2 separate regions of the Homo sapiens genome follow, and region 1 is reported to be linked to region 2. Evidence: microRNA targets listed by miRTarBase, many of them from high-throughput screens and not tested one by one. Region 2 holds a microRNA gene; the other region holds the end of a gene's coding sequence.
What was found. The annotated mature microRNA hsa-miR-6771-5p reads CUCGGGAGGGCAUGGGCCAGGC and lies in region 2 at 7,928-7,949, shown strand. An mRNA with a match to its seed (bases 2 to 7 or 8) in the 3' UTR can be bound and repressed. Matches are read on the target gene's strand: a 7mer-m8 pairs with bases 2 to 8, a 7mer-A1 pairs with bases 2 to 7 and ends in A, and an 8mer does both.

Region 1 (10,196 bases), not on the chromosome of region 2:
AAAGTTGTATCTTTGAGGCAGAGCTGCCCTTCAGTGAGTCACAAGCACTCTGGCACACCCAAGACCTGGGCCAAGCCACAGTGTCAACTTCCATACACCTGGAAACACCTCTCCTCACCGCCCTGTCCTCCTGTATCTTAGGTGCCTACATGCAGCCAGGAGCACGGGAGAACATTGCCTATCTCACCCACACGGAGCGGAGGAAGGACTTCCAGTACGAGGCCATGCAGGAGAGGCGGGAGGCTGAGAACATGGCTCAGAGGGGCATTGGCGTGGCCGCTAGCTCTGTGCCCATGAACTTTAAGGACCTCATTGAGACCAAGGCTGAGGAGCACAACATTGTCTTCATGCCCGTCATTGGGAAGCGACACGAAGGGAAGCAGCTCTACACCTTTGGCCGCATTGTGATCTACATCGACCGGGGAGTGGTCTTTGTCCAGGGCGAGAAGACGTGGGTGCCCACCTCACTGCAGAGCCTGATCGACATGGCCAAGTGAACTGTGGCAGGTCCAGAACCAGTCAGAGACTTGCCCCTAAGAGGGATGTACTGTAAATAAACAGTATTTTTAGATCACCTTCAAAAGGGTAACTTCTTTACTCAGGAGCTACTCCACATCAGGCCAGGTCATGAGGGAAGGATGTAAAATGGGACAATGCCACGTAGGGCAGGAATCTTTATACCAAGTCCTCATGTGGGGTATCGTCCTCAAAACAGGACAGCCAAGTTGATGTTCTTTCCTGGCAAAGGAGTTCTCTGTAGTTCCTCCATAGCAGCCTTCCCTTTAGTCTCTGGTGGCAGCTTCTACCTCAGCCAACACTGAGTACCTCACAACGAGTTCAGTCAGTAGCAGAAGGATCTTCTCTCTTGTTCCTGATGATTTCAAGGTCCTCACAGTCCTGATAATCTGGTTCTTCCCGAAACTCCCAAATATCTATGGAGAGCTGTTCTAGCTTTTGCACAGGGAACCAGTGGACAGAGGTATCATTAAATATGTCCATGTATTGTGAAGTCTGAGGAAACTCAAGCTCCTCCAGTCCTTTTAAAATCTGAGCAGAAAAATTCAAGTATAAAAACTTCAGATAGTCACAGTAATCCCCACTCTTCTGGGATAAATTTCCACTTTACTTGTCATCCCCACTTTACTTTTTAAAAAAATAACAAATAGGGTATTTTGATTTAAATGCTTTTGCACAATGAATTGGGCGCCCCAAGGACAGTGGATATCATGGACTGTGATACTAAGAATAAAGGAAATAAGGAAAAAACTAAGAGATGCATTAAAGAGTCATAGCTTTCTGGAACACAGACCCATGGAGAGAGCTGACAGTACACTAGCGCCACTTAGCCCATGAGTTTCCTCCTACGCCTGTAAAGAAAGATAGAATTCTTCACAGTTTCACACCCTTTTCCATCCCAGCCCCTTTATTCAGATAGATACCTTTGCAATGTAGGGATAATTTTTCTGCAGAATCCTTGCCAACAACCTAGAAATTAAAAAAAACCAAAAAAACAAAAAAAAAACACCATGATTAGGAGGTATGAGGATAGTTTCATTCAACTTTTAAGACACATAGAAGGGCAAGATGATTGAAGCATAGTAAGAATTCAGGAAAAAACTCAAGATGTGGAGTAAACCAGTTAAATAGTTGAAAATGTGGGCCAGGCGCAGGTAATCCCAGCACTTCAGGAGACTGAGGCGGGCGGATCATTTGAGGTCAGGAGTTCAAGACCAGCATGGCCAACATGGTAAAACCCCATCTCTACTAAAAATAAAAAAATCAGCCGGGCGTCCTGGTGTGCATCTGTAATCCCAGCTACTCATTAGGCTGAGGTAGGAGTATCGCTTGAACCCAGGAGACAGAGGTTGCAGTGAGCTGAGATCATACCACTGCACTCCAGCCGGGGGGACAGAGTGAGACTCCATCTCAAAAAAAAAAAAAAAAAAAAAAGCAAATATTCCAGTAATTGTGCCCATTTCATCAAGAGAAATGACTGAGCAGACTCCTAAGCACGTGAAACAGAATGAGGACGTGGAGCTGTAGGCAGAGGAATCAAATAGCTTTTCCCTGTTTTCAAAACCATTTCTGTGTATCATAATGGAAGGGAGGAATTCGTGGCAAAAAGACTCCTTAACTTGCTTCATAGTTCGAATCAGGATTTGACATCTGTCTTTAAGCCTTCATCCAGTTCCCTGTGGAAAAGCATTTCCCCAGTATGGAATCGTCAAGGAAATGTTTTCTGCATGTGGGTCAATCTGAGGTATGGGCTTCACCTCAGGGCCTGACAGAATCTCAGCATTCTCAGACTTACCTCTCCTCAAGTCCTTTGAAACTGTTCCCAATGATGACCATCTTAGAAAGGGCATCTACTGACCAGTTACTCCATAAAAGATTGTTGTACAAGGCCGTCCCACAATGGAGCATGTAAAAGATGGTAGGCTCCCCGCGAATACTCCGTTTCCCTTCCTGGGGATACGATATTCACAGGTGTAAACATGCCCACAACCTATTCTTTACAGCAAGGTGAGGGAGAGGTAAGGATGGGGATAATCATGAGACAAACTAAAGGATCAAAAGGAAAAAAGCTCATTTTGTGGAACAGTTACACTCGTATATGAAATCTATAGTTACAGGACTAAAGAGTCAGGAAATCATGATGTCCCGAAAGAACTCATGTTTACTTAACAAATGTACACATTGTGTTCTCATGAACACAAAGCCCTGCACTGATGGAGGGGCTTCCTGGGTCTATGACGGCAAGAACAGGAGGGATAGTGATGTTACTTACCCCATGTATTTCCCCTGTGTTCAGTAATCCACACTTCCTATGTCACTTCCTGCAGATCTGCATAACTAAGTCCTCTTCCAATGTCCCTGAGGCACAATCACCCCTCCTGAGAACCACTGCTCTCTGGCCAAACTCCAGCAGGGAACATAAGGCCCTTTGTCTGACCCTTGCCCACCTCTGGCCTGCCTCTCCTCTCCTTGCAGCTTCCCTTGTGTTAATAACAAACTGGCAGTGGTTTCCTGAACAGCCAGCACTGCACAGCTACCTTCAATCCTGGTTCTGTCCCACTAGCAAACTCCTGGTAGACCTTCAAAGCCCAGCTCAGACCCAGGAATCCTTCCTCCATCCCTCCGAACACCTGTCGTAGTACAAGGTTCTGCCTCAGTATTTCATTCCTCATTCACTTGTTGACCATGGGCTCCCTGAACACAGGGACTGGCTCCCATTTTTCTTGGTCTCCCCAAAGCTCCCTGCCTAGCACAGAACAGGCACCCAGAAAGATGATCTGAACTGAGTGACAGTGTTTTAGGACCTTGCCAATATCAGGGAATGACTCTTCTCTCAACTGAGCCAAATTTTCATACATAATAAGCAATAAGATGGCAGTTTCAGCACACACACAGGAATCAAAAGATTCTAATCCCCAAGACAATACAAAACCGAAATCGGAGGGATTTGCTCATACTGGCTTTGGCCCTGTGCTTTAGGGATGCATTTCTTTATTCCACAGGTCTCAGAAATGTCAAATCCCAGCTATTTTGGGGGGTGCAAACATGGGCAGAGAATTAATCCACAACTCACAGCCAGGTGCTATGGGTTTGACTGGGTTATAGCATCAAAGAGGAATGCTGCATCCCCTTTTATTACCTCCCTGGGACAGGATAAAATCCAACCACAAAGACCTCACTTGAGGCACCTAGACTTTTATGTTTCAGTAGCAACAGCAAATACCAAGTTAGCATAATTTCCAGACAAATAATTCTCAAAAAAGTGGTGCAGACCTAACATGTTCTGGTTCATGCTATCTGTGTAATTTTTTTCTGATGGGCACAACACAAGCCAAAATGTAGGTAACTGATTGGCTGGTTACATCGTTCAGGCACTACAAAAGTGAGCAGGCGGTAAGAGAGGAATGGCTGCCACTGCAAAGAATGCTGGTGTCCACAGGCAGGGCCTGGGGTGAGTCTGGTCAGGATTTTTACAGTTCTGTCTGCTCCCCTTTAAACCACTTACCTCGTTCTCACTGAGAACAGTCACACCAAGGGTGTTAAGGACTTCAATTTCAAGTTGGCTAAACAGAGGGTCATATACCCAACAGTGACTTCTGGGAATCTAGAAGGGAAGAATGAGTTGTTTACTTCAACCCAAACATCTGTGTGCACCCATGTATAGGACCAGAGGAGGAGGAGATGAAAATGAATCCAAAAATGTACCTGGCACTTTTCCAACAAAAGCAGCAAAAACGTTAGCTGGTTTCTAGCTACGATGCAGGTGGCAAAGTTCCCAATGCCGTAACACACACACTTCAAATGGCAGGTTCCTGTGACCAAGATCTCTCTTGGGATAGAATCAGTGGCCACATCTGACTCCTCTGGCAATGAGTCAAGATGCAGGTTTCCAAAGATGTCTGAAAGAGTCCCCACAGGGGCCTTCAGTTGTTCCAGATGTTTTGTGAGACATCTATTGATGGTTTCTGAAAGAGCAGGCCCCCAAATGCAGTTAGAGGGCATGTTCTGACCCTGTGAACCAAATCATCCACAAAAGAAGTTCACATATTTGGGGAGAAAGAGATCAGGGCAGTAAAAGGTTTCAATTCTTCAGAGAGAGAGAGAAGCTGCCAGCCTCATTCCCAAACATGCCTGGACATACAGTCACATTCACCACCAATTGACAAACTGTCCCGGCCCCTGGACTCCCAAAACCCAAGAGCATGTTGCAAGCAGAAATTGGGTTTCACTCAAGGGCAGTTTCCATCTAAAACTCTAATGTGAACTCATTCTAATTTAACAAGACCCTCCTAGTAAATGTAGACTATGCTCTGAAATGCGTACTTTTAAAGTTGTAACAAACCAGGTGCTCACGCCTGTAATCCTAGCACTTTGGGAGGCCTAGGTGAGTGGATCGCCTGAGGTCAGGAATTCAAGACCAGCCTGGCCAACATGGCAAAACCCCATCTCTACTAAAAATACAAAAAATTAGTCAGGCGTACTGGCGCACAGCTGTAGTCCCAGCTACTTGGGAGGCTGAAGCAGAAGAATCACTTGAACCAGGGAGGTGGAGGTTGCAGTTAGCCGAGATCACACCGCTGCATTCCAGCCTGGGCAACAGAGCAAGACTCCATCTCAAAAAAATAAAATAAAGTTATACTCTGTTTAAGTCTTCTCATGTAGAGGTAGGTTCTCTTGTCTCTCCTTTTATTGTACTGGTACTGAATTTAGCAAAACAAAAAAAGCCGTGCATTCCAATAAGATACCAACTTTTCACTTAAGATACCAGCAAAGGGCCAGGCATGGTGGCTCACACCTGTAATCCCAGTACCTTGGGAGACCGAGGTGGGCAGATCACTTGAGGTCAGGAGTTCGAGACCAGTCTGGCCAACATGGTGAAACCCCATCTCTACAAAAATACAAAAATTAGCCAGGGGTAGTGGCACACACCTGTAGTCCCAGCTACTCAGGAGACTGAGGCAGGAGGATTGTTTGAACCCAGGAGGTGGAAATTGCAGTGAGCAGAGATCACACCCCTACACTCCAGCCTGGGTGACACAGTGAGACTCCGTCTCAAAAGAAAAAAAAAAAAAAAAAAAAGCAGCAAAGACATCTTTAAACAAGACCCCAAGCCAGGAAAAACTGGCTCTTCAGGTCAATTTTGATAAAAGAATTGGTGAAAATTTTCTGGATAACTTGACAATAGATATCAAGTTGGTCACCGCCTTTCATTTAATTCTACTTCTGGGAATATATCCTAAGAAGATCATCCTAAGTTTGGTAAAAGCTTTATGCATAAAGTTACTCATTGCAAAATTATGTATAATAACTTAAAAAGGCTGGTTGTGGTGGCTCATGCCTATAATCCCAGCGCTTTGGGAAGCTGTAGGTGGGAGGATCACTTGAGCTCAGGAGGTACAGGTTGCAGTGAACTATGATTGCATCATTGTACTCCAGCCTAGGCGAAGAGTAAGACACTGTCCTAAAATAATAACTGAAAAACAACAGAAGAAAACTAAATGTCCCACAATAAAAATGATACCTATGGTATGTCCACTCCATGCATAAATATTATGTCGCCACCCACACACTATGTTTAGGAAGAGATTATCACTGCACGAGGAAAAGGCTACATTGTAATATCATGGAAAAGGAACAGGATAAATATAAATTTCAGCAATAATAATGACAACATTTATTGCCTTGTATACAGCAGGCAAGCATTTAACTAAACAGCTTCAATTCTCAAAACTATAGGATATACACATTATCTCCATTTCACAGATAAAGAAACTGAGGATCAGAATTAAGTGCCAAAAGACATACAGCTGTAAGGGGCGGGCGGCGTTAGAACCCAGCAAGTTATCCCTCTGTGAAGCAAAATGTCCTCAAATGAGGACTGATTCTCTTTTCTGCCCCACAATCCCTACCATTGGCCAAGTGGTACCCACCTAGTGCTGAACTCCAGAAATCAGAGATAAACAGGTCCTTCCTGTTGAGAAAAAAAATGGCACAGTCATGTCCCACCCATCTCAGGGCTGCCCCAACAGTAACTTTCCTGATCATGACCTGAATGCTTACAGAATGAGGTGCCCTGCAATGCAGGGCCCACCCTTACCAAGTGATAGGAGGGGGATATATGTTGAATATGTCCAGAGCCAGAGCACATACTGCTGGGGCTCAGAGACTGCAGGAGAGAGTATGCTGGAGGAGGTCCTTGATTCCCAGAGAGAGATCTGGGTCTATTCTCAGTCTACAACAGAGCCTAGCATAGAATTGCAGCTCAATAAATGGTTGTTAAGTGCTCAGAATTAGCCTTTCTGAGCTTTAGTTTCCTCATCTCTAAAATGGGGATAAAAATCATTCCCAACACGGAGGAGTTTAGAGGCATAAAATGGGTTAACATTCTTAGCCCAGTGTCTGGCACATAGCAGGTACTCAACAAATGGTATTTGTTATTATAAATAGTTTTAAGGGGAAAGTAAAGAGACAAAACCAAGTGTCTGGGCTTTCTTTATTCAAGTCAACTGGTTTTACAGACCCAGAGCAAAAGAAAGTCAACAGTGAATTAAAATGAACTGGATTTAAACTGACAAGCCACAGCCAGAGACAGTGATTATGGGGTTCAGAAAGGAGTACAGAGAATTGAAAGTCGGCCCAGAGGCTGCTGCACGTTTCTCACAGAGGGTAGAGAGTTCTGATGTACACAGGAATGCTTTATGAACTGGTAAATGCGTACACAGATATGCGTGTAAAATGCTGGCTCAATCTCTACTCAGAGCGATGGTGATTGCACCACACTTGGGTGTTGGGAGAAGCAAGGAGCTCCTGGGGAATACTGAAGCAGTTGAGGAGATCGTGACAGTGTCAAGGGATATGAAAAATGCCTTGAGTTTTCCAAACCCCTAGGCACATTCACTCTCACTGGCATCCTCTGAGAGCTTAAAAATAATCGCAGGTGCTTTTTATTCAGGCTGAGCCAAATGGTCAGCAACTTTCTCTTCAGAGGTAAACTCTGGGACATTACTGCCTCTTGACCCTAATTCTAGGGGAGAGGAGCACACAAAATTAATCTAATTTCTCCCCTTGTGACGGCCCTTCGGATGCTGATCTTAAGTGCTAACTAAAGCTGTTATTTATTGAGCCTAAACAAAACTGCGAATAAAGATAATAATACTAAATAACAATAATAAGTAACATTTATTGAGTGTTTCCTCTGTATTAGGCACTCTCTATGTACTTTCTAAGGTACAGAGCAAGGTATGTGAGAATCTGGGCTGGGATAAGCAACAAGCATAATGGAAAGCTGGAAGCACTGGTTTTTGTCACAAAGACCTGGGTTTGAAATCTGGTTCCACACATTTTCTTTGTCTCTTTGAGAATCAGTGAGCTACCAGGGTCCTAGTATGCCTGCAATGTTTAACATAAAGTGTGTAGAATGATTAAGCTAATGTCAGGCACATAGCAGCTGCCTGATGATAGCAGTCACGTGTTCATGTTGCTTCCCTCGTGTCACCACCACCAATAATATCAACATCGGCATAATATTAATAGCAAACACTGGCACAGTGCTTACCACGTGCCAGAAAATGGTTTCCGTTTACTAATTCATTGAATCCTCAAAACAAACCTACGTATGTACTATTTTCATCCCCATCTCACAGATGAGAAAACTGAGGCACAGAGATTATAAATTGTCCAAGGTCACGCAGCTGTAACCGTAATAAAAGGAAAGACGACCTTTAACTGAGCGCTTACTATAATCCACATCTTTAATGAGCTCGTTACCTACGTTAACTCTTCACAATAACTCCTTAAAGGGTGTGCATTATATCTCCACTCTACAGATGGGGAGACTGTGGCTCAGAATTGCCCATGGGCGCAAAGATTCCATCAGGGCCGAGCCTGCACTCACTCAGCCTCCCAGATGCGACGAAGCACGACTCCGCTGTCAGACTCGAACTCCGCCTCGGGGCCCCGGGGCGCCGCCTCTCTCCCCCGGGGCGCCGCCTCTCTCCCCCGGGGCGCCGCCTCCCTCCGCCGCGGCCGTCGAGCCGCGGAGCGCCTCTTCCGCGGAGCCGCCGCCTGCCAGGATTCCAGCGCCGCAGCTGCGGCCGCAGCCATTGGTCTCTGACGTCAGCGGCGTGCGGCGCACTCGGCACGTCATCGCCGCGCGCCGGCTTGCCAGGAGCTGGAGGGGGAGGTAGGCGGGGCGGCGCGTGACCTAAGGCCTCTCTGCCGCGCGCGCAGGTACGGGGCAGAAGTCGCAGGTACCCAGCTGCTGCCCACATTTCTGGTCCAGAGTCCCGAACCCCGAGCACTGGGATGCCTGGCTACTCCGGTGGGTGGGCGGCGCTCGGAGCGCGGGGATACCGAGGGGCGGGCCCCCAGCTTAGAGCGTGACCCGACCCCGCCTAATCCTTAGGCGTTCGCCCACCATTTCCCAGTCCCGTAGAGCTGGGGCCAGACACCGCACAGCCCTAGTGCTGTTACCAGTCGCTGCCTGCGCCCCGGGGGCTGCGCCCAGCAGCTTCCTGGCCCTTTTCCAGCCATTAGCGTCCGTTTTCCAGCCCTGCTGCCCCACTGAGGCCCCTTCCCACAGCAGTATCACCAGCCCCAGCCCCGCGTTGTTACTATTACTTCCCAGGCTACCAGATCCTTTTCTGCTCATGTTCCGACGTCTCTTCCTACTCCAGGGCCATTATTGGTCTCTTCTGGACCTTTCAGAGATAAGAGAGGACCTCGGTAGTGTAGGGCCCAGTCCTCTGGGAACAAGGGATGGGGAGTTTTAGGCTGCTGTCCTTGGTTCCAGTAACAGAGATACCCCCTCCACAGGCACCCAAATATGCTCCATAGAATACAATGAGTGTGGTCCTGTGGAGGCCCAATCCAAAATATCTAGAGCTGAGAAGAGATAGAGATTTTACAGGCCGTCAAATATTCAATGGGGGTCGTCTCTAGAGACTTTTAACAAACTGTATTGTGTACCCACAGATTGCAGAATGGTGAGCAAACATTTGAGACCATGTTGCTAAAGCATTAAGCTTGGAGAAAGTGACAGTAAGAATTAGACAATAGTTTTGAAGTGACCAAGAGGTTGTCACATGGAAGAATTAGACCTTGTTTTGTGTTTTCCTGCAGAGCGTTATCCAGACTAGCGAGTGGGAGGCAGATGTAAAATCTGGAACGCAGATTTTAGTTTGTTGGAAGGAGAAATGTAACATAGTGAACCACGCATCTCTGGAGGGTGTAAAGCAGAGACAGCCAAGGTAATTTTTGGAAAAGAGTGCAGGAGAGTAGAGTAAACGATGCCAGGGTTCCTTCCGACTCTGAAATTCCGTGATACACTGAGCTGTCTTTCTCTTGTGGAAGTTTGAAAGCCATTTGATAAAGTTCTCTTCATTTTTTAGAAATTTGCCCTGCTCTGGAATTCTGCATGTTCAGGTTACTTTTGGACTGTCAAGATGACAGTTCCTTAATTTGGGTTCCATTATTACCACAGCAACTGGTTTATTTGTATAGCTGTCCACACCTAGAGCATTTTCACCCTGTCATTTGATTTTATCTTCCGTGAAGCTTGTGGTGTGTTTCCCTTAACTGTTCGAGAAACTAAAGCCCTTACTCTGAAGTCTCTGCAAGCCTCCCTCTTTGATTTTGAAGCATGATTGTCACCCTCACAGAAAGCTCTTTTGAAATATACC
Region 2 (17,168 bases):
GATGTCAGTGGGCAAGCCTGGGCTGAGGAGCCCTGGTTTGGGAGCTGGCAGACCTGGGTTTGCATCCCAGCCTATCTGTCCACCAGCTCCAGCAGTGTGATCTTAGGCAACCACTCTGCCTCTCTGGGCTCAGTTCTGCATCTGTGAGACGGTGGTGCCACCTTGGCCTTTGCCGGTTGTGAAGATGAGAGTGAATGTGTGTGCAGGTGCCGGGGGTGACAGGAACTGCTGCTGTTATTACTGCAAAGGGCTATTTTGGGGTGGGGGGTGCTGAATTGAATGTATCTCAGGCAGGGACCTTATCTTGTTTGGCAACCCCCACAGCACAGGGTTGGATGTATATGGTTAGCACACAGTAAATGCCTCTTGTGGAATACAGACTGATTAGTTTAGATTTAGAGGTTGTAAACTAGTGGGCTGCAAATATTGAAAAATTTGAAATCAGCTGCCAACATTTAAAAATCATCATTTCACGTAGAAATCAGATTTGTAGCCTGTCTGAGCACTTTGGGCACTTTGACAGCTCTTGGCCACATCCCTGAAGGGTTGCCCCTCGTTGAACAGGTGCCAAGGCCTGTAGACACCTGCCCAGGCACTGAAGGGGATGGGGCCCCCAGCAAATGACCCCTTCCTCCTTCCCCAAATATGTGGTTTTACCATTTTGTTCCTGGTGTGTGGTGATGGAATAGGAACTTCCAGAGGAAATAGAGCCTGAGGTGGCTCCTGGAATTGAGGTGGCCCCAGGGATCTCATACTAGCAGGTGCTGGTTGGGGACTTGGGGACCCTGGATATCCTGCTTTTTGCCTTTGGGGGCTGGGGGCTCACCTGGCCATCTTCCCTCCGCTGGACCAGCTGTCCTTTGAAGCTTCTGCTGGCGGCTGGCCATTTGTGCCCTGTGACTGCTCTGAGCTGTCCCGTGTCTCACAGCCTCCCTGCCCTCTGCCTCTGGCCCTGTCCTGGTTCCAATCTGAGGCAGGCCTGGAGGACACTGGGGGCGTGGACTCTTGGTCCAGGGTTGCCCCCTTCATGCAAGGTTCCTGCTGGGAATATGGCAGCTGTCCCCAAGTCCCCATTGCTGTGTGAGGGATTGCACAATTTTGGTAATTTTCCTACCTTTGGAGACTGATGGGGATCCCTGGGGAGAGAGAGCCCAGACTAGCACACAGGAGATATAAGGGCTGGCAGGCGTAGGTGTGATTCACAAGCCTTTTTGGAATCAATGAATATGCTAAGGAATGAATGGTGCTGGGGAAAGAAGGAACCCATATGGGCTGAGCATGGCAAGTGTGGGGTCAGCTCACAGTGTTGTCACAAAGGGGCCACTGTGTCCCTCTCTGAGACTCAGCTCCCTTTTCTGTGAAGCACGGCTTGCAGACATCTGAAATTTGTATCAGTGGGCTATTTAAAAAAATAAACAAGATTTTTGCTGGGTACAGTGCCTGAAAGCTTAACACTTCGGAGGCTGAGGAGGGTAGATTGCTTGAGCTTAGGAGTTCAAGACTAGCCTGGGCAACATGGCAAAACCCCATCTCTACAAAAAATACATGGCCTACTGCAGCCTAAGTCTCCCCAGGCTCAGGTAATTCTCCCACCTTAGCCTCCTGCATAGCTGAGGTCCCAGCTACGCAGGAGTCTGAGGTGGGAGGATTGCCTGAGCCCTGGGAGGTTGAGGCTGCAGCGGGCTATGATCACACCACTTCACTCCAGCCTGGGTGACAGAGTGAGACCCCATCTCAAAAAAAAAAAAAAAAAGAGAGAAAGAAAATGCAGTTTTATGTGGAGCTTACTGTAACACAGATGCAGGGGGCTACCCTGGCTGAAGCAGGCATGGGGGCCTGAGCCTATGCCCCCCCACCTTCCCTTCCCATTGGGGGCCTGATGCATGTCCCCAAATCTCAGGGCTCCTAGGATCACAGCTTGGAACCCTCTGTGCCTGGAGGCATGAGACTCACTGGAAAATGAAGTGAATGTGGTGATTGCACCAGGACCATGGGGACAGAGCAGAGCCTGGAAACAGACACCATCTGTGTGTGATCACCTGACTTATGACAGAGGTGGCTCCACTGAAATTCAGAGAGAGGATGGCCGGTTCACTGAACACTGCTGGGATAATTCAATATCCATATGGAAAAAAGAAGTGAACCTTGATCCCTACCTCACACCATACCCAGAGTGAATCGAAATGGATCAGAGACCTTTGTGTGAAAGCAAAACAGTGAAACATGCAGAGCAGAGCTGGCCTGTAGAAGCTTCTGTGATGATAGACATTCTCTGTTTATCTGTGCTGTCCAGTACAGCAGCTGCATGTAGCCATTGGGTATTTGATTTTTTTTTTTTTTTGAGATGGAGTCTCACTCTGTTGCCCAGGCTGGATGCAATGGCACGATCTCAGCTTACTGCAAAATTTGCCTCCCAGGTTCAAGCCATTCTCCTGCCTCAGCTTCCCGAGTAGCTGGGATTACAGGCACACGTCACCATGTCCGGCTAATTTTTGTATTTTTAGTGGAGGGGGGTTTTACCACGTGGGCCAGGCTGGTCTCGAACTCCTGACCTCAGGTGATCTGCCTGCCTCGACCTCTCAAAGTGCTGGGATTACAGGCATGAGCCACCATGCCTGGCTGGCTGTTGAGTATTTGAAATGTGGCTAGTGTGACTGAGGGACTGAATTTCTAATTTTATTTTAAATTAATTTAAATTTAATTTAAAATAGTGGCTGGGCATGGTGGCTCATGCCTGTTATCCCAGCACTTTGGGAGGCTGAGGCAGGAGGATTGCTTGAGCCCACGAGTTCAAAACCACCCTGGGCAGCAGGGGGAGACGCCCATCTCTACAAAAGAGAATTTAAAAATTAGCTGCACACCTGTAGTCCCAGCTACGTAGGAGGCTGAGGTGGGAGAATCACTTGAGCCCGGGAGTTTGAGGCTGCAGTGAGCTATGATCGTGCCACTGCACTCCAGCCTGGGCAACAGAGTGAGGCCCTGTCTTGAAAAAAAAAAAAAAAAGCAGCCACATGTGGCTAGTGGCTACTATCTTGGACAGTGCAGTCCTAGAAGACACAGGGGACTAGCTTTACGACAACAGGACATAAAAGTTAGGTTAGGGTTAAGATGGATAAATCAGACTTGGTGCTGTGAGGCCTGGGCCCCGCTCTCCCTGATGCTAGCCCTCCCCTGACTTGGACCATTAGGTCAAGTTCCTGTCTGCTTCGTCTCCGCAGAGCTGAGGAACTGCGTGTGGAGTCAGCCCAGTCTGGATGCACAGGAGGATGCTGGCGGCACAGTGAGTGAGGCCTGGTGCCAGAGCTGTGCGGACCCCTTGTTGGCCATGGAGCAGCAGGCCCAGAGGCCCTCTCCCCAGCCCTGCTTGCCTGCCTCGGAGAGGACAGAGGCCTAGGCCCACGGGGGAGGGTGTTGGCAGACAGATGCCCTCCAGGCCCTGGGGCCTCCTTAACGGCCCCTTAACGACACGCGTGCCAAGGGTGGAGGATGCCAGCCAAGGGGCGCTACTTCCTCAACGAGGGCGAGGAGGGCCCTGACCAAGATGCGCTCTACGAGAAGTACCAGCTCACCAGCCAGCATGGGCCGCTGCTGCTCACGCTCCTGCTGGTGGCCGCCACTGCCTGCGTGGCCCTCATCATCATTGCCTTCAGCCAGGGGGTGAGTGAGGGCAGCCCCTGGGCTTCACGTCTCGGCCCCAACCTTGGCCAAGCTGCTATCTTCTCTTAGCCTCTTCTGTAAAATGCTTATCTTCTGTAAAATGCTATGCTTTTTTGTTTGTTTTGTTTTGTTTTTGGGTTTTTTTGAGACAGAGTCTCACTCTGTCACCCAGGCTGGAGTACAGTGGCATGATCTCGGCTCACTGCAACCTCCATCTCCTGGGCTCAAGCAATTCTCCTGCCTCAGCCTTCCGAGTAGCTAGGATGACAGGTGCATGCCACCATGCCCAGCTAATTTTTGTATTTTTAGTAGAGATGGGCTTTCACCATGTTGGCCAGGCTGGTCTCGAACTCCCAACCTCAGGTGATCCACCTGCTTCGGCCCCCCAAAGTGCTGGGATTATAGACGTGAGCCACCATGCCCGGCCAATGCTCTGTCTTTTACAGCACATTTAGACTGGTAGAAGACAAGTTTCTAATTTAAAAAAATTTTTTTTGAGACTGGGCCTTGTTTTGTTGCCCAGGTTGGCCTTGAACTCCTGGGTTCAAGTAATCATCCTGGCTTATCCTCCTGAGTAGCTGGGAGTACAAGCATGCACGACCATGCCCAGCCTCTCTAACTTTAATTCAGTTTTGAAGTCTGGAGTGGTTTCAGACATTACATTAACTTGTCCAGATAAACTACTCTCATTTTTCTCCATGATGAAATTCGATTCTACTGAAGACCTGGGTCAGGGATGGCCTGTGTATCACTGCCCTCACTTCCTGTACCCATGCAGACATCATTAATCAATCCCTACATTCCACACTGAGCCTGTCTACATTCTCAGAATCCTCCTTTTGTTTTTTTTTTGTTTGTTTGTTTTTGTAGAGACATGGCCTCGCTATGTTGCCCAGGCTGGTCTTGAACTCCTGGCCTCAAGTAATCCTCCTGCCTTGGCCTCCCAAAGTGTTGGGATTACAGGTGTGAACCACTGTGCCCGGCCTCAGAATCCTTTTTAACACAGCTCTCCAGGCTGGCACCACCTATGTCATTTCCGGCCCAGGCACTTGCCTTGGTACAGCCACTAGCTGTGTTTAGCTATTGAGCATTTAAAAAGTGGGTAATGTGACTGAGGAACTGCATTTTTCAAAAAAAAGAGTTTTGCTCTTATTGCCCAGGCTGGAGTGCAATGGCACCAACTTGGCTCGCTGCAGCCTCCACCTCCTAGGTTCAAGTGATTCTCCTGCCTCAGCCTCCCGAGTAGCTGGGATTACAGGCCCATGCCACCACGCCTGGCTAATTTTTGTATTTTTAGTAAAGACAGGGTTTCACCATGTTGGCCAGGCTGGTCTCAAATTCCTGACCTCAGCTGATCCACCTGCCTCGGCCTCCCAAAGTGCTGGGATTATAGGCGTGAGCCACCATGCCCAGCCCATTTTCTTTTTAGTGAATGTAAATTTGATTAGCTGAGTTCTAGAAGAACACTCAGAAACTCCAGGGTGTTTATGTGAGTGAAGTGGCCAGGACCTAGCAGCTGCCAGTGCAGCCTGGATCCATGTGGCTACCAACCACAGGATGCTTGCTACTGTGTGCCAGCCCCCAGATCAGGCCTCTGCCCCCACGGACCTCCCGGATGCTGTGCCCGTCCTGTCCCACCTCTGTGCCATTGCCTCAGCTCCTCCCCTGTGGGATGACTTTTCCTGGTATCCCTCACCAGCCTCTGCTCACTCACTGAGGGCCAGGCGCAGTGTCCTCTTTGGGCGGCTTTACAAGGCTCTGCCTGTGAATGAGTCCTGCCCTGTGCTTGTGGTATCACCTGCGGCTGTGCACAGAGCACCGTGGGAACCCAGAGAGGAGGCAGAGGCAGATGGAGAGTGATGGCATCATGGGCGGGGCTGTGGGTGATGCTCTGGTTCCCGAGATGATGGGAAGGGGGTGGTTGAGGCAGCCTTGGCAGAGGTGACAAAGGCCAGAAGGTGAGTGGGAACCAGGTGTGGGAGGGTGCATCCACACCCTTCACGTGGAGGAAGCTGTAAGTGAGGCAGCCGGCCCGGCAGGCTTTCTGGAGGAGGTGGCTCTGCACTGGGGAAAGCCGAGGCATTCCTGTCTGTTTGCTCCACCCAGGACCCCTCCAGACACCAGGCCATTCTGGGCATGGCGTTCCTGGTGCTGGCGGTGTTTGCGGCCCTCTCTGTGCTGATGTACGTCGAGTGTCTCCTGCGGCGCTGGCTCAGGGCCTTGGCGCTGCTCACCTGGGCCTGCTTGGTGGCGCTGGGCTATGTGCTGGTGTTCGACGCATGGACAAAGGCGGCCTGTGCGTGGGAGCAGGTAACAGGAACTCTGGACTCCCTGCCAGCTGCGCCTTCAGCAGCTCCCATCCCCGTGGTTGGTGGGCATGCCACAGGCCCTTCGTGCCCCACGCTTGGCTGTGTGTCTAGGATGGCCCCAGGCTGGTTTTGTCCCTGTGAGTTCTCTGCATTGACAGGGCTGAGGTGGGGAGAGCATCCACTCGGACGCTGGGCTGCAGCACTTTTGGGTGGCTCCAGTTTGGTTGGAGATGACAGAACTTCAGCTCAAAGAGGCAAAAAGGCACAAACTGGTTCCTGTGTCAGGAAAGGCCAAGGGGTCAGTGCTGGGCTCCAGTGGGTAACTGGAACTGGGGCCTCTGGACAGCTTCGGCCCCGGGCACGCTGTCCCCAGGTGGGGGCAGAGAAGTTCACAGCGGCTCCAGGCTGCCCACCCCAGTTGAGAGAGAGGGCCCTTTCTCAACCAGCTCGACCTGCAGGCTTGAGCCACACTGGCCTGGCTGTGGTCATGGGCCCAGTCCCAGAGAGGCTGTCACCAAGCGGTAGCACACTCTGACCAGTGGGCCTGGGTCCTATGACAGCTCCTGTGGCTGGGGCAGGGTGGGGTGAGGCCCAAGGAAACCATGTGGACTGAAGGGGAGGGAGAGGGCAGCACTCCCAGAGGGGTGGACGCAGGACCAGCCGGTGGGGATGGTGGGGCAGCTCTGGGGGTGGAGGGAGGGCGGGTGGGGCCGCATTGCTGGAGGCAGCTGGTGAGAGGGTGCCTCAGCCTCCCGGTAATCATTTCTGCTGAGCGAGAACCACGTGGCAGGGGCACCAGGTGGGGGCTCCCTGGATCACGCGGGGCATGGAGCCTCCCACCTAGGGTGGCCACAGGCAGTGGATCAGCACAGGAAACCATGAACCTTGTGGCCGGGCCCACCCTAGAAACACATTATGGCTTTTCTTGTTCCCTTGTATGTCTGCCCACGCAGGGGGTGGCGAGGGAGCCAACCTAAGGATACGCACTGGGTGGGCTGCTGTGGTGCAGGGTTCCGGGGGCTGTACGGCCTGGGGCAGCATCTTGGGGCACCGGGCTCACCAGGCTGCATCCACAGGTGCCCTTCTTCCTGTTCATTGTCTTCGTGGTGTACACACTACTGCCCTTCAGCATGCGGGGCGCTGTCGCCGTTGGGGCCGTCTCCACTGCCTCCCACCTCCTGGTGCTCGGTTCTTTGATGGGAGGCTTCACGACACCCAGTGTCCGGGTGGGGCTGCAGGTGAGGGATGGGCTAAGGCCTCTGGGGGAGGTTTTGTGGTCTGGGTCTAAGGGCAGATGGGGGGGCCCCCTCTGGGTGAATCAGACCCGAAGGCCCCGGAGCCGTGTTTGCAGACAGCCCGCTCCAAGGCCGGGCCCTCTCCACGTCTGCTCGGAAGCTGGGCTCCAGGCGTGGCCCTGCCCTCTGGCCTTTGCTTTGCTGGCCTAGGGCTCCCCTGTGGCTCAGCCCTCAGGGTCGTGACCTCAGGCCTTGCCTCCCGGTTCAGGGACACTGTCGTGGGGTGAGTCCCATTGCCGAAGTTTCCCCTCGAAGGCCCTGTCCTGGCGGGGCTTGGGGGAGTACCCCAGGGCACTGCCTTGTGTCTTTGTGTTGAATGAGTGAATCTTCTGTTCATAATTATTGGGTGTTTAGAGAAGTGTTTTCCCTCTGACCAGGCCTGGTGTCCTCTCCAGGCAGAGGCTGGCCCTCCACACAGCCAGCTGGGCGCTGTGCCCTCTGGGACTGCCCTTAGCACGCATGCCCCTCGGGCCCTGGGCTCTGTGAGGTGGTCTCTTCTGCCTCCCTGGGTGTCCTGGTCTTGCAGTCCTAGTGACTCACTAGGAGACTAGCTCCTGTCTGGGCCTCAGTTTCCCTGTCTGCCCCAGGAAGAGTGCCATTCTCAGTGGGTTGAAGGTCAGGGAATGGGAAGAGGTGCCATCACTAGTCCGCCTAGGGGTCTGGTGCCTCGGGAGGGCATGGGCCAGGCCACATAATGAGCCAAACCCCTGTCTACCCGCAGCTGCTGGCCAACGCAGTCATCTTCCTGTGTGGGAACCTGACAGGCGCCTTCCACAAGCACCAAATGCAGGATGCATCCCGGGACCTCTTCACCTACACTGTGAAGTGCATCCAGATCCGCCGGAAGCTGCGCATCGAGAAGCGCCAGCAGGTGGGACCCGGCCCCCACTCCTCACCCTGTACACCCCTGTCCTCTTCCTCTTTCTGTTGGACATGAGACACTCATGCTGCCATGTGCATGAGGTGCATGGCCAGACACCCATGCAGGTCTCACCTCGGTGAGTCCTGGGCTCCAGCAGGGTAACCATAGCCTGCTGACCCTTGACTCTGCCTTCCTCTGTGTGGTTTCAGTCCTGGGCACGCAGTCCCCAGGTGGCGGCAGAGAAGGCCGTAGTGGCTCCAGGCTGCTCACCCATCAGCTTAGCCTCCCCAGCTGAAAGAGCCCTTTCTCAGTCACCCTGAGTCCCGGGGGCTGCTGGGTACATGGGAGGTAGATGCTCAGTTGGGTTGGTGGAGGACAAGAGCAGAGATGGGGACATTGTGGGCAGGGCAGGCAGGCAGGGAGGATGGGGGCCAAGGAGGCCAGGTCTGGGACCTGATGCTACCCTGCCTGTCCCCCGCTGGTCCCTCCGCCGGTCGCTTTGCTGGTCCCTCTGCTGGTCTGCCCACCCACACCCAGGAGAACCTGCTGCTGTCAGTGCTTCCGGCCCACATCTCCATGGGCATGAAGCTGGCCATCATCGAACGGCTCAAGGAGCATGGTGACCGTCGCTGCATGCCTGACAACAACTTCCACAGCCTCTACGTCAAGAGGCACCAGAATGTCAGGTGGGCGGTGAGACGTGTGATTAGCATATCCCGGGGACTGGGCCCACCGTTCCACCGGCCCCCAGGCGGCCTCCCCGCCCTATCTGGAGGCTCAGACCCCTGCCCATATAGGGATTGGGAGAGGGCCCCATGGTTCCAGGTCAATCTGGGGCCCTCCCTGGGTCTCAGAACCCCCACTTGTGGGCAGGATCAGATCAGGGCTCTTAAATTAGAGAATTTAGATTGGTATTGAAAGATCTAGCACACCCCCAAAACTGTAAAACTGTGTGAGCAAACATAGCTTTTGTGAAGGAAGGGGTCCTTTCAGATGGTTCTCAAGGGAGCACAGGACCCCCAGAATGAGGTAAAGCCCCCCGGCCTTGGTGCCCAAGAGTGCCCCGGTTCTGACACCTGTCTTTGGCTGATTTGCAGGGAACCACAAAATTTTACTTGAATGCACTGACCTGAGTTTGTCAAGTGTCGATGTGGGTGCTGGGTGCCGTTGAGTGTAGATGTGGGTCCCAGGAGACCCCCTGGGTCCTCTGCCTGCAGCGCCAGCATTACATCCAAGGCTGGCCCGCTGCCTTTTCTCTGGGCTGTGGATGGTCCATGAGCTTAAGGACTTTGGAGCAGGGAGAACTGGTGCAGATGCCAGCTCTTGGCTTCCCAGCAAGTCTCAATGTCCTGGAGCCTCAGTTTGTGCATCTGTAGAACGGGAGTTCGGCAAGGGCTGTGTGAGGACTCGATGCCTGTAAAGTGCTGGGTGTGGAGGTTGGCTTGAGGGAGCATGGAGCTGCCTCTCACCAGGGAGTTCTGAAGTCTGTGCTGTGGTGAACATTGGATGGGAAAGGGGAAGGCTCCGGGCTGCCTGCAGGAGTGCCCTTCGGCTGTCTGCAGTGATAGGGCCTGGGGTGGGGCCGAGGGCTCCTGTAGGCTCTGAATTTTGCTCCCTTCTGCTTTAACGTGAAGCCCCTGGAACTTTAATCTGTCTCTATGGCTGGGCGCGACTCTCCCATCCCTATGGAGGCTGAGGAAGGACGGGGGTGAATGGGCTCAGGCCTGGCAGGCTCCTGGGGCTCCAGACAGTCCTGCGTGCTCCTGCTGCTGCTGTCTAGGAGCCTGGCTCTGACACTCCCTCCCACCCTGCCCCATCCCCAGCATCCTCTATGCGGACATCGTGGGCTTCACGCAGCTGGCCAGCGACTGTTCTCCCAAGGAGCTGGTGGTGGTGCTGAATGAGCTCTTTGGCAAGTTCGACCAGATCGCCAAGGTGAGCCCGCTGGCCTACAATGGGCAAAGCCAGGCCCCTCCCCTGCCTATTACACCCCAGGGGTGTCCTGTGTTCAGTGCCCTGCTGGAATTGGGATGGGGAGGCGTGGCTGAATTTTAGCATCCAGCCAGCAAACACAAGCGCCCCATGGTAAAGGTGGGGGTGAGTGGTGGCCACGGCAGCCAGGATCCTGTGCCCCCAGAGTGACAGGCCAGTGGGGAGACTGACAGTGCACACTGGGCGATATACTGGGGCTCTGGAGCTCAGATGGGGGCTCAGGAGGAGGAGATGGCTCCATCCTCACTGGCAAGGCTAGCAGCCTCCACTCACCTGGTAGCTCAGGAGGACTGTGGAATGCCCAGCCTCACCCAGAAGCTGCTTTTCACAGGATCTGAGGTGAATCATGTGCACATTAAACTTTTACGTTTTGTTTGTTTGTTTTTGTGAGATGGAGTCTCATTCTGTCATGAAGGCTGGAGTGCAGTGGTGCCATCACTGCTCACTGCAGCCTCGACCTGCCAGGCTCAAGTGATTCTCATGCCTCAGCCTCCTGAGTAGCTGGGACTACAGGCATGCACCACCACGCCTGGCTAATTTTTTTTTTTTTTTTTTTTTTTTTTTTTTGTAGCAATGGGGTTTCGCCATGTAGGCCAGGCTGGTCTCGAACTCCTGACCTCAAGTGATCATCCCCTCTTGGCCTCCCAAGTGCTGGGATTACAGCCGTGGGCCACCACTCCTGGCCCACCTTAAAGTCTGAGATACTTGAAAAAATATCTGAGGAGGAAAGGGAACAGTGTTCTTAGCAGGGGGAACAGCATAGACAAAGCCTGGAGTAGAAAGAAAGCCCCGTGTGTCCATGGGGTGAACGTGCTCAGTGTGCGTGTGAGGTGTGAGGGGGACAAGGGCACAAGGTCTGACATGCAAGGACATGAGGGCTGAGGCGAGGACCAGGATGCTGAGGAGCTCGACACGTGCCAGGCAGGGAGGGGGTAAGGCAAGCAACATTTCCATTAATGGACCAAATGGTCCTGAGAGAGGGTAAGTGCCAGGCCCTGAGTCTGGGTGGGGCCTTGGGCCTACATGGTATGTGCTTTGAAGAAGAGAAGTGTGGGGGCCAGGAAGCCTGGGGAGCACCTAGCCCAGCCTCAGGTGATCAGGGCAGGCTTCCTGGAAGTGGTGGCCATTAAATAGAGACTGAAGTGTAAGATTTAAGGTGGTGGCTCCCTATCCTGGCTGTACATGCAAATCACATGGAAAGCTTAAATAAAACACCAGTGCCCATGTCCACACCCATCAGAGTTCTGTTTTGTTTTGTTTTTGAGACAGAGTCTTGCTCTGTCACCTAGCGTGAAGTGCAATGGCATAATCATGGCTCACAGCAGCCTCAACCTGCCTGGGCTCAGGCGTCCTCCCACTTCAGCCTCCCGAGCAGCTGTGACTACAGGTGTGCACCACAACCCCAGGCTAATTTTTTTGTATTTTGTGGAGATGGGGTTTTGCTACATTGTCTAGGCTGGTCTTGAATTCCTACGCTCAAGTGATCCACCCACCTCAGCCTCCCAAAGTGCTAGGATTACAGGCATGCACCATCATGCCCTGCCCCATCAGAATTTTTTTTTTTTTTTTGAGACGGAGTCTTGCTCTGTTGCCCAGGCTGGAGTGCAGTGGTGTGATCTCTGCTCACTGCAAGCTCCGCCTCCCGGGTTCACACCATTCTGCCTCACCCTCCTGAGTAGCTGGGACTACAGGCGCCTGCCACCACGCCTGGCTAATTTTTTGTATTTTTAGTAGAGACGGGGTTTCACCATGTTAGCCAGGATGGTCTTGATTTCCTGACCTTGTGATCCGCCTGCCTCGACCTCTCAAAGTGCTGGGATTACAGGTGTGAGCCACTGCGCCTGGCCAGAATTTGTAAGAGCCCCGCAGGTGTCTCTGTGGGCAGAGAATCAATGGTCTAGAACTTGATGGGAGGCAAGTTATGACTTCACACTGGGAAGAATTTTTCATGATCAGAGCTACTCAATCCCAGGAGGGACTGGAAGTGGGCTCCCTGTTGCAGGGGGTAACCAAGCTTCTACAGGATTGCACTGGTCAGGGATGCTCTGGAAAACTGTCCCATCCTGGGGATTGTGGACTGAGTGACTCAGAGGGCCTGTCTAGCCTGGAACCTTCCTTCAGGATCTGCATGGCTTCTGAACCAGCAGCTGGGAGCCCCAGAGGTTGGGCCTCATGTGAGGCAGGGGCCCTGGGCTCGGGCCACAGCTGGCCCTTTCCTTACCATAAAGCCCACACAGAGGGTCCCTTGCCCTTGGACACAGTCTTCCCTCTCCAGCAGGCCCAGGAGGCGTGGCCCTATTGCACAGATGGGGAAAGGGAGGCCATGGCAGGTGCCAGCTTCCCAGTCAGAGCATCTAATCTCTGGGCAGAGTTGGGCAGGGCTGGTCCCAGCCTTTTCTCCTATCAACAATCAGATTCCAGAAGTGTAAGCTCTTTCCAAGAGCCAGGGCCTCCTCTCTCAGAGGCATACAAGTCACACCTCCGCACAAGACCCAGCTCCCCAACTCCAAGTGTCAGAGACACAGGGGACTGTCAGCCGGTGGAGCAGCCGGGGGAATGTGGCCTCTCCTACATCCCCGAGAGCTGGGCTGGGTCCATGGGCAGTCCTGTGCCTGGTCCGAGAGGAGATCAGGGTAGCTGGAGCCTAGTATCCAGGTCTGCCAAGATTGCCTGCTTTCTAGGAAAGCCACTGTCCTCTTGTCCTTGCAGTCACTCAGAACTCACTCAGCATGTGCCAGATGGGGCCCAGCAGGAAACATCTGGCACACGCTGAAACTGAGTAATTGGCGGAGGGCACAGGCCAGGGATGGTTCCCAGGCTGGGCAGGTGCAGGGGACCTGGAGGCAGGGCTGGTGCTGTGTCTGGGGCCTGGGTCTGTGATGGCTGATGGGCACAGAGTAGGGACGAGGACAGGATAGGCTCGAGTCCTGGAGACAGATGGTGTTCCAGGAGCAGGCCTAGCCCTCGTGAGCCTGCAGGACAGAGCCCTCTTAGCTCCCTCCTGGCCAGAAGCCAGAGCACAGGGCCACCTGCTGGGGCGTCCAGTCCGAGGGTCAGCTGAGTGGGGTAGAGGGTGGGGAGGGGAGAGCAGAGGCAGATGGCGCTCCTTCTTCAGCTCCCCTAAAGCCCCACCCATGAGGCCTCGGTGCATGTGGCCACCCTTGCTGAGGGCTTAAGGAGGGTCTGGTGACGCAGCAGTGCCTCAGATGAACCTCAGAGGGCTCTCGGGGGTCCCCTTCTCTCCCTGGGCCTTTTCCTATGAGTCCCCACCCTCGCCGCTCTCCTACTCTGCCCTCCCCATTCCCTCTTTCCTCTCTGCATTGATATCTTTCCTCCCCACCCCTAAGCCCTGTCAGCACAGCCACTGCTTGGGTGACCTTGAAACCTGCTGATCCCTTGGTGTGTACACCTGTGACCTCTGTCCTCACCCCCCACTCCTGCAGCCTCCTGGCTACCTCGCAGTCTCTTCCCCAGCTTTGTGGCCCCAGGGCTCCTGTGAGTCCTTGAGTACTCTTCCTGCAGAGACTGGCATGGCCGGCTCTCTCGGTTCCTCGGGGTCTTAGCTCAAATGTTTCTGATTCCAACTCTGAGAGGTCTTCGCTGGCCTCCTGGGAACATCACTTCCCTCCTGTGCCTTGGTTTTCTCCTTAGCCCCCATCACAGCTGGGCACACTGTTTTGTTTTTGTCTTTCTAGTTTAGTGCCCACCCCTCCTGCCTACGTGCAAGCTCCGTGGCTGCAGAGATTTGCATCTATTTTGTTCACTGCTGTGTCCCCTTGCCTGGCCTGGGGCCGGGTACTCAGTAGGCACTCAAACATTACCTGGGCAAATGAAACCAAGGCAGACCCCTCCCCGAGGCCCTTAGGAACACTCGTGTTCACCTCTGGTGCTTGCCTGGGGGTTCCTCCTGGGGAGGCCCCCATGTCGCTAAGCCTTTTGCCAGGCCCAGAAGTGGCTCCTGGTGACTGGACCCCAGGAGGCAAGCCCCCAGCCAGGAGAGAGCCGGGTGCACCCTGGAGGGTGGGGGGAGGCGGCTGTCGTGAGAGGTCCCAGCCCCACATCTTCCAGTGACCAGGCCCTTCCCTCACCCTGCAGGCCAACGAGTGCATGCGAATCAAGATCCTCGGCGACTGCTACTACTGTGTATCGGGCCTGCCCGTGTCGCTGCCTACCCACGCCCGGAACTGCGTGAAGATGGGGCTGGACATGTGCCAGGCCATCAAGTAGGTCCTGGGCGGGCCCAGGCCCTGGGTCCTGCCCTGTGGCGGACCCTCCTGGGCATGGTAGGGGATGTGTCATTCTCATGTCACAGATGGGGAAACTGAGGCTCGGGGGGTTGGGGGTGAAAGCAGCTTGCCTGGACCACCCAGCCTGCTGGAGGATTCAGACTTCATCTGTTTGCGTCCCTCCCTGTGGTGCTGCCTGTGACTCTGAGTCCCAGAAAGCATCTCCGGAGCTCAGAGCTGGGTGATGTGAGGTCAGGGCGGTGGGCTCCGCTCCCCTCAAGGATGGGGTCTTAGCAACAGCAGGAGGCTTCAGGGTAGGCAGCCGGGGGACCTTTCCGACCCAGGGGTCGACTCCAAGGCTCCATCTGCTTCCTGCTCCCCAGTGAAGATCCTGGAGTCAGGCTTGGTCCTGAGGCTGCGGGGAGACCCCCCGCTCCCCTCTAGGTCCCCTGTGGCTCTGAGCAGCTGGGGTCTGTGGGAGGAATTTGCCGAGAGGGCTGTATGGGGAGAGGGCCAGGCAGGCCCAGCCAGGCTGACCAGTGTGGGGCAGAGCAGGGCCCGGTGGGGCTGCCCGTCCTGGATATCAGGCCGTGTTCCAGCCTGTCCTTCTCCTGAAGTCCTGCCATAGGTGGCTGGTGTTGCCAGAAAGAAGCCTGGGCAGAGCTGGAGGGGCCTGGCCTGCACCACTGCCTGTGTGACCTCAGGCTGGCCCCTGCCCTGTAACAGGCGGAGGTTGTACAGGCCCTCGTGCACCTCTGGTTCCGACCCTGGAAGGCTTGGTCAGTGCCCAGCCTTGTTGGTGGACACGTGGTGCCGCTTGTCATGGGGACTCAGGCTCTGTTCCTGTCTTGGGCGTCCCCTGTGCCCCAAGGAAGCTCTCCCGTGGGGCTCTGCTCCTGTGCTCAGTGGTGCTAACAACTCCCAGGGCCCCTGCTTCCCAGGGATTGGGGGGGCATAGAAGGTGCCCATGGTCTGGGCCCCTGTGTTCCTTGTCTATGCTAGGTTTTGGGTGGTTCCTGGACCCCCTCTGTAGACGCCAGTAAACTTTATTTATTTATTTATTTATTTGAGATGGAGTCTCGCTGTGTTGCCCAGAGCGTATCTCGGTTCACCACAACCTCTGCCTCCTGGGTTCAAGCGATTCTCCTGTCTCAGCCTCCCAAGTAGCTGGGACTACAGGCGCCTGCTACCATGCCCGGCTAATTTTTATATTTTTAGTAGAGTCAGGGTTTTGCCATATTGGCCAGGGTGGTCTCAAAACTCCTGACCTCAGGTGATCTGCCTGCCTCAGCCTCCCACAGTGCTGGGATTACAGGCATGAGCCACCACGCCCGGCCCCCAGTAAACTTTTAAAACCCAGCCGGTGCTGCTGGGCAGGGAAAACACCCAGTGATGGTATTTTAGGTCCATCAACATGGGCTGTAGTGACTAGTTGGAATTCCTCCTCCCTCCTACCTAGTCCTTGAGGTCAGCTGTGGCCACACCTACTTGTATGCTCCTGGGGATGGGGCACTCAGCTCTTCCTGAAGAGGCAGCCCCATCAGGCTGAGAACATTCTCTCCCGTGGGCTGAGCGCCTGCCCTGTTCCCACATGCTGCCCTGTACCCACCCCACACCTGGGAGCTTCAGCCTGTCCCAGGGCTTAGGCAGGGCTGGGGTGACTGGGCCACTCTGCCCCAGGCAGGTGCGGGAGGCCACGGGCGTGGACATCAACATGCGTGTGGGCATACACTCGGGGAATGTGCTGTGCGGGGTCATCGGGCTGCGCAAGTGGCAGTATGACGTGTGGTCCCACGACGTGTCCCTGGCCAACCGGATGGAGGCAGCCGGAGTACCCGGGTGAGGCTGGGCTGGGTAGCCGCAGGGACAGAGGCCTGGGGCTGGCTGTGGATGGAGGGTTCTGCGGTTGGGGGTGGGGGTCAGGTGTGGAGGGAGAGATGAATGTAGAAAAGCTGGCCTGGGGCCCAGGCCTGCCTGCTGTGCATCCCTGGGTGGATGCCAGCCCTCTCTGGGCCCCAAGGCTCTGCCTGACTTGGGTCTCCCGTAGCCGGGTGCACATCACGGAGGCCACGCTAAAGCACCTGGACAAGGCGTACGAGGTGGAGGATGGGCACGGGCAGCAGCGGGACCCCTACCTCAAGGAGATGAACATCCGCACCTACCTGGTCATCGACCCCCGGGTACGAGGGCTCAGAGGCCGCAGCTGGGGGGGACCCGGAGGGACTGGAGGGGCCCTGGAGAGCCTGGCCCGCACCTTGGAGGAAACCCCCATGTGGAGGGAGAGGTGGGGAAGGGCCCTGCCTGGGCAGGAGTGAGCTCCCTGTTCCCAGGCACATTCTAGGCACCGAGTAGCCACTCCCTGGGCCTCCATTCTTTTCTATGTGATGGGAAAACAGCGCCTGCCTCACCAGAAGGAGCTAATCCGAGCGAGGCCTTCACAGTGCGCCTGGCACGTCACAGCATTCTATGTATTCTCGTCACTCTTGGTTTATTTTCCATGAGGTGGTTATTAATCTCCCAGATTTCCGAGAGACACACTTTCAAAACAAGCTTTGGATGAAACTCAGGAAAGCAGGGAGTGGCCTGGGAGCCACTGGGCAGGAGCCTCTGAGTGTCCTGGGTGCTGACTGCAGGTCCCCTGGTGGCTCCAGGACCCCACGGTGGAGGAGGCAGTTCCACTGCCCTGGCCAGGTGGGGCCCGCCTTGGCCTGTCTGCTGCCCGACCCTGGCCTGCTTCAGGGAGTCCGGCACGTCTGGCCACTTCTCTGTGAATCATCCATGAGGCTTGCTCAAGAATGTCGGCCCAGCCAGCGAGTGGCTCCTTTCA

Region 1: miRTarBase lists TFIP11 as a target of hsa-miR-6771-5p. Seed matches in the 3' UTR shown: 7mer-A1 at 914-920.

The regions. Positions count from the first base shown.
Region 1 is chr22:26,482,314-26,492,509 of GRCh38, reverse strand. TFIP11 (tuftelin interacting protein 11) reads left to right here. Exons shown (of 15, transcript NM_012143.4): 15 at 142-1,270. The coding sequence ends at 497. It overlaps SRRD (SRR1 domain containing), which reads right to left and starts at 8,633. Exons shown (of 7, transcript NM_001013694.3): 1 at 8,411-8,633; 2 at 6,447-6,487; 3 at 4,222-4,481; 4 at 4,022-4,120; 5 at 2,312-2,466; 6 at 1,440-1,485; 7 at 1-1,047. The coding sequence starts at 8,619. The coding sequence ends at 838. HPS4 (HPS4 biogenesis of lysosomal organelles complex 3 subunit 2) reads left to right here and starts at 8,727. Exons shown (of 14, transcript NM_022081.6): 1 at 8,727-8,836. RefSeq lists a silencer at 8,450-8,539 and an enhancer at 8,560-8,679.
Region 2 is chr16:50,284,694-50,301,861 of GRCh38, forward strand. MIR6771 (microRNA 6771) reads left to right here and starts at 7,923; the gene lies at 7,923-7,982. It overlaps ADCY7 (adenylate cyclase 7), which reads left to right. Exons shown (of 26, transcript NM_001114.5): 2 at 3,219-3,657; 3 at 5,764-5,967; 4 at 7,043-7,204; 5 at 7,983-8,132; 6 at 8,661-8,809; 7 at 9,947-10,058; 8 at 14,211-14,338; 9 at 16,022-16,180; 10 at 16,389-16,521. The coding sequence starts at 3,487.